Regions from separate parts of the Homo sapiens genome. Here regions 1, 2 and 4 are each reported to be linked to region 3. Evidence: microRNA targets listed by miRTarBase, many of them from high-throughput screens and not tested one by one. Region 3 holds a microRNA gene; each other region holds the end of a gene's coding sequence.

Region 1 (3,108 bases), not on the chromosome of region 3:
GTAGTGATGAACCCTGTCAGATCCCTATTGCCATCTCATGTCTCTGGCCTGGAAATCATCCAGTAGGTGGTGCTGAAGCTCCACACGACATACTTCTTCAGAAATCAAATGATGTCCCTTTTGAAGCCAAGAGAAATATTTAAGAATTATCAATTCTGAACAAGTTCATCAGACCAGTCTTGCTTGTCATGCCGTCTAGATGATTCCATTTTCAATACTATTACTCAAGCAGTTGTCTTGAGCCATCTGCTTATATCAGATAAAAACAAAGAAAAGTTTTAGAGGAAAAGCCAATTGGCAGTGCCGAATCTGTACAGAGAATGAGAAAATGTTCCTGAAGGTGCCTATACACATGTTTAAGAATCAGTGATTTAAACTACCCATTTGCTTTCACAAAGGAATTCTCATTTACTCAAAAGAAAATTTCCATATAGGGATTCAGAGAACATTATATCATCAGTTAGTCTTGTAGACTGATTAAGAAACTGGGTATGTTAACTATAAAGATCCAAGGTAAAATAAAAACCATTTCATCACCATAGTTTTTAATGAAGAAACTTGTTTAAAATTGTAAAGGAAAAAATGGGAATGGGACGGCAAAATCTTAGCAGCAAAGTGGTTAAACAAATTGAAAATATTAATGCACAAACATTAAAATATTAAAGCATATATGTTGCATATAAAATACAGTACAGAACCAGGAGTTGCACTATACTGATTAGTGCTTAACAGAAGAAATGATTAAATTTGTTCCTCCCAGAAGTATATACACAGTTCATTTCCACAGCATTTTCCTATATAGCCAGCAAGTTATTTTCTTCAGTTATTCACACCTTGATCAAACCTGAATTATAAACTTAGCACTTACAAATATGAAAATTCATTCACAAGGAAAAACAGTATTTCCATTTCACCAATAAAAATTTTGAAAGTTAACAGTCTATTCTAGGAAACCAAGTTTAGCTGAAAACTTCAGGGATGAAGATCATCTGTTGTAGCAGCATTCAAATATATAAACAGTAAAAATAAGACTTAAAACTGCTGCCTACAGTGTCATGTTTTGGATTTAGTTCATCCAATTGATTTTTAGTACAAAACTAGAAATACCCTCTTCTTCATAACATCTATAGTTATCAATATATTTTCTTCTTTTCAATGTGAAATAATACTTCAAGATGATCTATATACACAATGTTGTCAGTTCAAGCTGTCATATAAATATAAATGCTTTCTTAAAAAAAGTATTTTACAGACAGATAGTGTTATATACATTGTTCAGTTTGATCTGGGGCAAAAGAAAAAAGCTAACACAAGCTTAAGTGTGATATATAAAAAGAATGATACATAAATGACGTTTAAAAACCTGCATAGAAAATGAGCTTCAAATAGTAGTGTGATTTTAATTTTTATCACCTCTGAAACTTCAAGCCATTAAAAAAAAGGCACACTTCTCAACTTTATCCCTCTAAGGGAATGTTCTTAAAGAACCCTTTCCTTGGTTAGAGTTTTAATGTAACACTTAAGAAAACAACAACAACAACAACAAAACAAAAACAGACAATTTGACTTCAAGGTACTTTAAAGTTTGTTGGAACATTTACCCAACTATTTTGTAAATTAAACATCCAGTAATATAATGCTCTGCAAAAGAAATAAATTTATATGTACAAGATACTTCATTTACAATGTTGGATTAAATACTTTCCTGGGATAGTTTAGCACACATTTTAACATAAAATAATTTTGCTTTTGGCCAGTTTAAATAAAAATAAAATGTAACTGATAAAAAGTTATTGTTATGTAAATAATAAGCACTGAGGATTAAGCTGAAAAATTAGTAACACAGCTGAACATATTCTGGTTTAGCAGAATGATACGTGAAGATCTCAACATGAAGCTTTTACACTAACTATCCAGTCAAACTTTCTGCCTTGTAAAACATTTGTAAATGCAATATAACTTTTTGAAGGAGGAAACTCTGAAAGAAAACAACTTGCTGGTTGAATACCACAAAAAACAACTAAAAAACTTCACTTTTTTTCTATAATGTTTGTTTACTCAGTCTCTTTTTATATAAAAATAAGTGTTACGTTCCCATCAGAACATTAGACAATTACATCTGTGCTTTAAAAAAAAAGTTGGTCACTCAAGGCTATTAGAGTATTTTTAAGGATTTTAGATTACCAGAATGTACAGATATAACTCAATATAAATTGTAGCCAAAGAGAAATAAGGATGAAAATATCAAATCATTCGCATGGAATAAAAACATTATTAACTAGATGAGTTAAATATTCAAAATATATGGAATGTGACAGTAGATATATATATATATATATCTACTTCAGAACTAGGAAGGGGAAGAAAAGTTTAATATGTAATAATTCGTACCTTACATTTAGTTAAATATAAACATTTGTTATTTATACATAAAACTGCTTTCAAAAAACAACTAATAAATGATTTAGTTGCACTTGTTTTACTTCTTGTAATTCCCAAGTGTTAACTTTTCTTAGATTGAAATCAACTGTCCCCTAGTGCACTTTTATTTTTAGTTCGTGTCCTAATAAATTCAAACCTTTAAAAGTCCCATCACCTAATGCATAAATATACAAAAATGCCAAAAATTAATCCCTTTTAGTTGGATCATATTTTATGCTGACTTTTTATAGCCAAATAACCAGAAATGGTTTCCTTCTGCAAATACTCTACAACCTGTAACAAAACATGCCATGCACTCAAGGGAAAAGTTAGGCATGGCGTGAAACGCCAAGAACTGATGAGTTCTGCTTCCTCCATGTGTGGGCTCAATGATACCAGGCAAGATTCCATATTGCTTGCCAAAAGCTTCCACAAATCCAAGTTAGCTAATTCCTGGAAACAAAGATTTTAAGCTCATTTTGGCACTGGACCATTTCATCCAGCAGCTTTATGTTTCCCACCACAGCAACCACATGCCTCACCACAGCGATGGCACATTCTCAAAGGGACGTAGCAGCACATACATGGTACAATGAAAGACAAAGCTACCAGGGCTAACCATCGCAAGCAGAACTTGTCGTCGCTAGTGTCACACGAACAGGGATCAGAAAAATCTCCCTCTGAGTC
Region 2 (3,108 bases), not on the chromosome of region 3:
CATGGTGTATTGAGCTGAGCAAGCTGTGGGTATTGGAATTTAACCTTTTTTTAAAATACGCACAACATTAAAAATCCTGTTTTTTCCCCTAGATTATTTGCAGGTGTCTTCCCTCGAATGGCAGCCATCAGTCTGGGAGGTTTCATCTTTCTGGGGGCTTATGACCGAACGCACAGCTTGCTGTTGGAAGTTGGCAGAAAGAGTCCTTGAAGCAGAGACAAGCCTCACCTCCACTTCTGTCAAGAGAGGGGCCTGCAGTGCAAACCCTCTTCCGCTGAGCAGCTGTCTGAACTATAGGCCCCAGTGCTGAAGACCAGTTGTGCTAAGATACCGGCATGGAGATTGTGCCATCCGTGGTATAGGCTGGCTGGTATGAAGTCATTGGCCTGTATGCCAGAGAGCTAAGAGAAGAAAACGGGGTCTGTGGCGGTACTCTGAACAATTTCCTCAGAACCTCTTAATAAATAAGTTTGGTAATGCTGAGGCCAGGCCTTTTAGAGCTTTCATTTGATCTGTATCTGATCTTTCATTTCCTGCCACCTGATGGTGGATTCAGCAGAAGGCAAGATGGTTATAATTCTAAAAGAATAGCTTGTTTGTTTGTTTGGGAAAAGGAGACTTGGGGAAGAGTTGTGTATGTGGGTGTTTCTCCCCCTAGTTAATTCCTGTTGTGTAAGGGTAGGCTTTGTTGAAAAAGAAAGAAAGATTGAACTACAGGTGCATAGCAAGCACTCTTTCTGGGTAACTAGGCTGCTGGTTTTAATTACCCTCAGATTTCACCCATAAAAACGCACAATTGTATTATTTTACAGAGATGTGTCCAGCGCCCCCTGTGGTGTGTGAGAGAAAGCAGCTGCAACTCAAGTGACTAGGTGGGCCCAGCTGGCTTCGTGCAGGAGGGCACGGTGGGTGAGCCATTCTCGCCATTCTCATGTCAGACTGAAAGGAGGGCCTGGGCCAGCTTTGAAAAGGCAGGATGAAATGGAAAGGTCACCACACTTAGGGATTTTAGACCTTGACTAACAAGCTCCAGGTGTAGAAAAATTCAAAACAAAATGTCAGGAATCTAGCAGTGTTGTCTGCCCTGGAGCAAACAAACAGTATGTGATTTTGCTTCGCCTATTTTTTTTTTCTTTTTTGGGGGAAGATAATTAAAGGCAGAATGACTGCGTTTGTAAAAGAAGGACCACCAACTATACTGACATTTATAAATGAACCTTTATTAAAGACACTTCAATGCCATTTGTTAGACACTTCAATATTTTACATGGTTTTCAATGTACACTGTACCAAAATTTCTATAAATAAATAACTTTGTACATAAAAGTAATACTCCCTCTTTCACATTGCCTCTCAGAAGCAGCAAATTCACATATTTTGTGGAAGTAAGATTAGTCAGTTAACTGTCAAGAACAAAATTCTAAATGTGCTTACCTTTTGAACAGTGATGACACCTGACAGTAATTGTTAACTATTTTCTCAGTAACTCCCTTCAGCTTTTGGCCAAAGGAACATTTGAAGGACCTTGTTTCTATTTAAGTTTTACTAAATGACACATTGGCACTCATAAGATGGTTAGCTACCAGTCTCAAAAGTGCAAATTATACCCAGAACCCAGGTCAAGGGCTGTCCTTTCCAGTCCCAGCTCAGTTTCATCTGTGCGAAGGAATGGCATGGACAGGCCTGCTCTGGGTCCTTAGTAGAAATAAGGTAGCCCTGAAAAGTCAGAACTTCCTCCTTTCTGTCCCCCAAGGCCAATGTAATACTCATTATATTGGCAAAACGAAAACATCAGTATAGAAAAATCCACAGGTACCAACACCAGCAGCCTTTACCTTAATTTAAAAGTCTCAAATAGCAATCGAATGATACTGAGAAGGCCACATTTGCTTTTATCATAAAATAAGAGGAGGAGGAAAGGCAGTGTTTAACTGTTCTGACCTTTTGCTTGTGATGGATTAACAACCCTCATTCTACGCCTTACAGACGGACAGATTCTACGCCTTACAGACAGACAGGACTTAAACCTAAAAGGAAAAGCCATTCACTGCAAGTGTGGATGGCACTTGCACCCCTGGCTCTACAGACAGGGAAGCCTGTTGCAGGGGCATCCACACATGAGCAGTGCTCACCTGAAGCTCCTTCCGGCGCATGTGGAGTCCCACCGCACAGCAGCCTAGGGGTCTATGAAGTGCAATATAAATCCAAGGCCTTCCATCCTTCCCACCCCGCACCAAAAACTCCTGTGAACAAATGTGGTTGTAGCCTCTATAAATTCCAGCCATGCGTTAAGGCACCAGAACTATTTCCCCACCCCCTCCAAAATTAAACAGCAACCTGATACGAAAAATAATATTGTCAAAATTGTATAATTTTTTTCTGTTAACCATGCACTAAAGATTAAAATAGCCTCTGTAAAAGATATATATGAAATCTCTGAAAACTCTTATGTACAATGATATCAAATACTTTTTTTGCCTTTTGTACACAAATCCCCTCTTGCGTTTACTGTGCTTCAGATCCAAGTCCTGTGAGCGACTGATACTCCACATGGGAGTTACAACTATGTACAGATGAGTGACGCTTGAACCCAAGCTTCCTCGCAGCCTCTCCTACCTCTCTTTCCCGTAGAGATTGGTATGACAAGAACTGAGGTAGACAAAACCTAGCTTTTTGGTGCCAACAGCAGTGGCACCCTCTGTTTCCCGGGGAGCTGTCCTGTCAGTGGCGTGGACTCGGGACTGGCGTCACATGCTTTGGGGAGGTGGCCATTGGAAACAAGCAAGTACTGGGCTTCCGCGCGCTCTGGACTGCCTGAAGTTAATGAAGATGCAGGCTGTAGCTCTGTGGAGTCCGGGTGATACAACCTTGCTAAAGTCCAGGAAGAATCCCCTACAAGGAAAGAACGAACCTGTCAGACCCCCACTTGACCGTTTAAGCAGCTCCCAACCCACCTGTTAGAAGACAGTCAAAAGTTACCTTTCCCATCTAGAGATGCCATTGGCTTTTTCTTCACAGCCGTCAGCATTCTATCGTGGTTACTGGGGTAGAGCGACCCTTGGCACTCGGGGCAGGACCCAGCGGCAGTCCTGCTGCACTGGTGATGTG
Region 3 (3,108 bases):
ACTGAGCCCATCCTCCCTGCCATAATCTGCTGCGATTGCAGCCTTGATCATTCCCATTTCCCAGATGAGGCTGTGGGAGCTCAGGGGGAGCTGAGTCTCTCGCAAACACCGGTGCTTGACCTTGGCCCTGGAGCCATGCAGAGTAGAGATAAGGGCGCCCCTTGTAAATCTCCCCTCTCCCGCAGAAGGCATGGCAGGAAGTGGCCGGGTCTGCTCGGGAGCAGCCGAGCTGGAGGCTCACACCCTGGAGTCCCCCGGCCATGCAGCCAGCTTGGCGCCACCCTCCCTCTCGACCTCCTCCCACTGCAGACCTGTTAGTGTTGGGTTGAGAAGCGCAGGATCAAACCCAGGACTTTCAAATGGCAGAGCAGATTGCTAGAAGCCTCTGTATTTCCTGTCTGGTGGAGTCACCAGGCCCTGGATCGGCCGCTTTGATTCTCAGCTCGAGCCACTGCGAGGCTCCGTGCGTGGGGAGCGGGGTGGTTATTCATGCTCTGACCCAGGCATCCTGGAGAACCAGGACGGGCGACTGCTTTGAGAACCAGACGGGCGACTTTTCAGAATCTCCCTGCTTTAGAAATTTGACGCAAAATGCATGTAAAATTTGGGCTTTCCCACTTTTTTTTTTTAAAAATGGTCTCATTCTGTCTCCCAGACCGGAGTGCAGTGGCATGATCACAGCTCACTGCAGCCTCGACCTTCTCTGGCTCAGGTGATCCTCCCACCTCAGCCTCCCGAGTAGCTGGGACTATAGGCACATGCGACCATGCCCGGCTAGTTTTTTTTTTTTTTTTTTTTTGAGACAGAGTCTCACTCTGTCACCCAGGCTTGAGTACAATGGCATGATCTCAGCTCACTGCAACCTCTGCCTCCTGGATTCAAGCGATTCTCCTGTCTCAGCCTCCAGAGTAGCTGGGATTACAGGTGCCCACCACCATACTCGGCTAATTTTTTTTTTGTATTTTTAGTAGAGACGGGGTTTCACCATGTTGGCCAGGCTGGTCTCGAACTCCTGACCTCAGGTGATCCGCCCACCTCGGCCTCCCAAAGTGGTGGGATTACAGGCGTAAGCCACTGTGCCCGGCCGCCTGGCTAGTTTTTTGTATTTTTTGTAGAGACGGGGTCTTGCTGTGTTGCCCGGGCTGGTCTTGAACTCCTGGGCTCAAGTGATCCTCTTGCCTGGGCCGCCCAAAGGGCTGGGATCACAGGTGTGAGCCACTGTGCCCGGTCCGGAGAGTCTGTTAAGTGTGGCCTCCTAGTTGATGGGCCTAAGCCAAGCCCTGAGTCCAGGCTGAGGTCTGGCCTGGGAGAGTTGCTTTGGCGTCCTCAGCTCATAGGTGGCCTTTAGCCACCTATGGATCCAGGTGAGCCCACGGATTGGGCTGGGGCACACGTGACAAGGATTGGCCAGGAAGAGGAAGAAGAATGTGGAAGGGAGACCGAGCAGAGGCTGTCAGCAAGGGAGGCACTGGCCGGAGGGAGGGGGTGTTCCGGAAGCAAGAGGCAGAGGTGACGGCAGCCACCGCGGGTGGAGGGGACCTTTGGGCTCATGTGACCTCTGCCAGGTGCTTTTCATGGGTGTACAGGTCTTGACCCCTTTGATATTCTCAACAACCTCTGAGTGTCGACACAGTTGTACCCACTTAATGGATGAAGAAAGTAAGGCCCAGAGAGTGCATGAACTTGCCTAGGTCACATGGCTGCTTGTCTCCGGCCTCCCGAGGTCAGCGTGATTTCATGGTCCCCGATGGCCTCCGGAGTCTGGGACGGAATCCCCGTGGCCAAGGGCCTTCCTCAGGAGCAGGGCCATGGAGAAGGCGCGGAGAGGCCTGCGGGTTCTGTGGGTTTTGTGGGTTTTGTGGGCCAGCCTGAGAGACCGACCCTGCTCATAATGCCATCTCTGTGGACAAACTCCAGCCTGTGCCCAGCAGCCCCTGAGAACCACGTCTGCTCTGAGCTGGGTACTGCCTGTTCAGAACAAATGCCGGTTCCCAGACGCTGCCAGCTGGCCCCGTTCCTCTGGATTCCTGCCTTCTGCGGCAAGGGAGCCCGGACGCTGCAGTGGAAGGAGCAGGTGGCACTCGCTTGCCCGTGGGCAGGAGCTGTGCAGAGGAAACGGCGCTGGGATCCCTGGAGGCTGGCACGATGCTCCGAGGCCGCATCCTGGGGCGGCCGGAGTCTCTTTGGTGGCAGAGCTTGGAATCCCACGCCAGCCACCTGCTGCCACTGGCAGCCCCCACACCGTGACCCCCAGCTTTGTGCTTGCTGGGGCTCCTGGCAGGGAGGGGGTGGTGCAGGAAGGAGTCGCTCTGGCTGGGACTTGGACACACCTCAGTAGTAAGGGGATTACAAATTGGGCAGAAAAGACACCTTCTTTCCCTAGACCAGCTAAGCCCTGCTTGCGGTGGAGGGCGGGGGAGCGTGTCACCCTGAGTCACCCGGGCTGCTGTGAGCGTGACCAGGGCAGCGTCTGGGCAGAAGCGGGCCATCCTTTTCAGAGCCAGGCCCCGGAGCCACCCTAGGGACACCTCGGAGGCCTGGGTGCTGCTCTCACGGCCCGTGCAGTGGGTGGCCAGATGGGAGCCCCCGCACTGTGAGCTCAGCACCTTTCATGCCCACAGAGTCACCAGGAGACCCAGGTGCCCCCTCAGGGAGCAGAATGGGGAGGCTGGATCCTCACTCAAAGGTGAGGCCCGGCGCAGTGGGAGCCTTTTCCTCGTCCCCATCCTCCCTGCAGACGCTGCCGGTCACTCGAGTCAGGTCAGCTCTGCCACCGTCCTGGGTGCCGTGCCCCAGGCGGCGTGCTGTGGGAGCCTAGGAAGCTTTAGACGTGCCAGGCCCGCTGCCTGACCAGTCACTCCCGTGGGCCTGCCACATCCTGAACACCTGTGACAGGTGACTTCCTCCGGGGCGGAAGAATGTGGATGTGGTTATCTCGTGGAAAAAAGGTTTTTTTTCCACGCTCTGCAGACTTGGTTTTTAACCCCAGAGGCTCGGGGCGATCTGGGGCGGGTAGCACGGAGCCGCATCGCCACCTAGTGACCACACGACGGCACCGTCCTTGCCCAACGCCCCGTTTCCATCTCCTGCTGTCTGGAGCCTCCTGCT
Region 4 (3,108 bases), not on the chromosome of region 3:
CTGTTAGTTTAAATCACCAGAAATCATTTTGACACAACACAGAAACATTTATAAAAGAAAAAAAACAGCTGTCTAGCTGTTCTTTGTAGCTGATAGGTGCATTCCTTTGATTGTTCGATAGCTAGAGTAGAGCTTCCAAAATTAATCTGTAAATTTCTCCATCGGCCTTCTTCACCTCCTAAACCTACTTAAATCCTTCAAGTAAGCTCACTATTAAAATTTGTGGCATTTAACTTCTTTTTGTTATTATTCCACCACGGTTTGGGCCCAACTCATGAAATCAAAGGTCCTAGAGGAATCTACTCAACACAGTGATATTCAAAGGACAGCCGAGTTACTATATTAGCATTGCACAAGTAAACAAATATATATGACAATTCTAGATTCCATTATCCCCTCCCATTTTGTTTCTTAAAAATGTTGGTTGACCTTTGAAAGAATTTTCTGTCTCACTGGTAATTGCTTTATATATTGCTCCATCAGCCAACCTGAAAGGAAACCAAAGAAAAGCACCCACTGCTTATAGGTAGAGCACAAGGGACTCTGGGAATGTTAACAACTGAGGCTATATGGCATCAATTTATTTAATATATCTGAGCATTATTCTTCAGTGCTTTGTGTTGCACTCCAGAAGACAGAGTCATACCCAGAATTCCGTTGTGGGAAAAATGGCTCCATTAACCTTGAGCTAGTTAAGAGTCTTTTTATCTCTGAGAATGAAAGAGATTTTGGGGATGGGGAAGGAATGAAGAGGAGGGAGAGGGGGAGATGGGAAAGGGAGGGAAAGAGAGGAGAGGTAGGGAGAATATACACCAGCAAAGCAACAGCAGGAATTTTAAAAGGTAAAACGGAAGATTCACAGACAGTAGAAGCAGCATAGGGTGACATTACAGAGGAAGGCCACCACACAAAACCCACTAACCCCCAAGAATCACTGATTCACTAGGACTGCAGGAATGGGACTGTACCACTCCGGACTAGAGATAGAGCACAGATAAGACAAAGGACAAAACAACTACATTAGCTTAGTATATACTGCATATAGAAACACACATTGAAACTGCAATGGGACTGACAGCCAAGGACACATACACATTGTACACATTACAGTTCTCACATCTGTTATTAGATGCCTTAACAAACAGCTGCCAAAAATGAAGTGGAAGAAGAATTTATACTTGACAGTCATTTGGAGTGTTTGACACCACACTGATTTCTGGCAACAAAGACAAAATAGGATTTTTTTTCTTTTTCTTTTTCTTTTTTTTTTCTTTTTTTTTTTTTTTACTTAATGTGCAGTTTTCAGTTGCAGTTATCTGTCTGAAGCTTATTAACCCATTCTTTAGTTTTAAAACTTATTGGTTTCAACCCAGAAATAAGAACCAAAGGGAAAGAAATTCCATCAAATCAAACCAGTCCCCCCAAATACAACCTTCCTTTTTGTTTTAAGCAAGAAATGAAAAAAACCAAAAACATGTTAAATATTTTCCTTCTTTTACTCCGAAGTGTTATTGAAGTTGCAAAATTAGCCTCAGTTAGACTGAGTAAGGAAAACAAAAAGCTAAACAAAAGGCAGTATGTACCTAAACTGCTCCTCAAATCAGTTTGATTGAGTTTTCCAGCAGCCCCTTTAAAAGGGGCTTTACTGACCCATTAAATTTAATGTGAGGCTATGTTTGTTAGTTGGGAGGTAAAAAATTTTAAGTCCTGCAGCAAACGTTAATGAGGGCTTTGTCTTAACTAACCAAGGAGACTGCAGCAACGGACTCCAGACCAGGACAGAACACATTTTTTTTTTTTCCCCCAAAACCCAGCCCAGGAGCTGCATTTTGTATGAAGACATTACAGATTAATAAATGATAGCACCATGGTTTTAGAAATTAAGTTAATGTTTCAGTAATTAACATTTAGTCCGACTTTTTTTTTTTTAAACATTCTAGTCACAGGCCAGAAATTAAGTTTAAGAACCCAAATTATTTTTATGTGCAAGTAAGAAAATCTTAAAATCTTAACCGTAAAAAGAGAATTAAATTCTGCATAAAATTCTAAAATACTATTCCCCCTATTTTTTAAAGGAATTAGGAACAGAAACAAAAACCACCCTATTTCATTTGACTTAGTCAAACAGGGCACATTGTTTATGCTTGTCTCTTTCCATCTTGATCATATCAAGATCTTTATGAAGAAACCCCAATGGTTGTCACTTGAGAACTCTCTTGACCACAAGACTGAGTATTCTATGGCAGAGGCATATACACATGAAAGACATCTTAATAAAGATGCAAAGGAAAGCAAAACAACCCAACACACACCTTAGAAGAAGACAAAACGGCAGGCAACTGGTCGTCTGACCCTCTGAAGGCAAAAAATAAACATATCTTTACACGAAAGAATAAGTCAGGTGAAAGAAAGAGGGGGTGGAATGGGGACCGTCGTGGCGAGAGAAGACGCTGACCTGCTCGAATTCAAAGTGCTAGAATTAAAGGTCTAAACGAAAATGCCGACGATGCCTCCTCCAAGCGGGGCCTGGCCGGGCCCAGGACGGGCGGCGCCTCAGTCCTCCTTGCGCTCCAGAGTCTGTGCCGCGTGGATGCCGTTGCTGTAGACGGGGAAGGGCAGCGTGGAGAAGAGTCCCTCGGCCGTGGTGAACACGTTGCCGGCGGGCATCTGCGTCAGGCTAGCTGCGCTCACTGCGCCGCCGAACGGTCCTGACATGTTGAGCCGGTGCACGTGGTGGTAGAGCATCTCCATGGGCGTCTTGGGGTCGAGGCCAAAGCCGGGGCTGTTAACGTCCACGAAGTTAACAGCGTGCGCGTTGGGCAGCAGGTTGCTCTGCATGGCCAGGGTCACCTCGGCGGGCGCGTAGCGGATGGTGCCCGTGGTGTAGACCCTCTGCGCGGCCGTGCTGGTGGCGGCCAGGGTCCCGGTCACCCTGTGCACCAGCGGGAGCACGACGTTGCCCGCCTGCAACCTCTGCAGCGCCTCCAGGTCCCCAGTGTACAGCAAGGAGTTGGACGCGCTGGGGCCGCCGCCCCCCGCGCCGCCGCCCCCGCCCCCGCCCCCGCCGCCGTTCCCGGGGTGCTTGTCCCGCGGGGACGCCGAGAGCGG

The links. The annotated mature microRNA hsa-miR-589-3p reads UCAGAACAAAUGCCGGUUCCCAGA and lies in region 3 at 1,973-1,996, shown strand. An mRNA with a match to its seed (bases 2 to 7 or 8) in the 3' UTR can be bound and repressed. Matches are read on the target gene's strand: a 7mer-m8 pairs with bases 2 to 8, a 7mer-A1 pairs with bases 2 to 7 and ends in A, and an 8mer does both.
Region 1: miRTarBase lists SPRED1 as a target of hsa-miR-589-3p. Seed matches in the 3' UTR shown: 7mer-A1 at 2,345-2,351 and 8mer at 2,098-2,105.
Region 2: the mRNA of LRIG1 is a reported target of hsa-miR-589-3p. Seed matches in the 3' UTR shown: 7mer-A1 at 1,725-1,731.
Region 4: miRTarBase lists NPAS3 as a target of hsa-miR-589-3p. Seed matches in the 3' UTR shown: 7mer-m8 at 1,780-1,786.

What each region holds. Positions count from the first base shown.
Region 1 is chr15:38,351,473-38,354,580 of GRCh38, reverse strand. It overlaps SPRED1 (sprouty related EVH1 domain containing 1), which reads right to left. Exons shown (of 7, transcript NM_152594.3): 7 at 1-3,108. The coding sequence ends at 2,917. Among named protein-coding and RNA genes, the nearest start is that of SPRED1, 100 kb to the right of the region's middle.
Region 2 is chr3:66,377,598-66,380,705 of GRCh38, forward strand. LRIG1 (leucine rich repeats and immunoglobulin like domains 1) reads right to left here. Exons shown (of 19, transcript NM_015541.3): 18 at 2,980-3,108; 19 at 1,200-2,892. The coding sequence ends at 2,666. It overlaps SLC25A26 (solute carrier family 25 member 26), which reads left to right. Exons shown (of 10, transcript NM_001379210.1): 10 at 93-1,326. The coding sequence ends at 210. Among named protein-coding and RNA genes, the nearest start is that of LRIG1, 120 kb to the right of the region's middle.
Region 3 is chr7:5,494,722-5,497,829 of GRCh38, reverse strand. It overlaps MIR589 (microRNA 589), which reads left to right and starts at 1,913; the gene lies at 1,913-2,011. The region is part of intron 3 of FBXL18 (F-box and leucine rich repeat protein 18); the gene reads left to right. RefSeq lists enhancers at 2,570-2,619, 2,690-2,769.
Region 4 is chr14:33,800,555-33,803,662 of GRCh38, reverse strand. NPAS3 (neuronal PAS domain protein 3) reads right to left here. Exons shown (of 12, transcript NM_001164749.2): 12 at 1-3,108. The coding sequence ends at 2,554. Among named protein-coding and RNA genes, the nearest start is that of SNORA89, 93 kb to the right of the region's middle.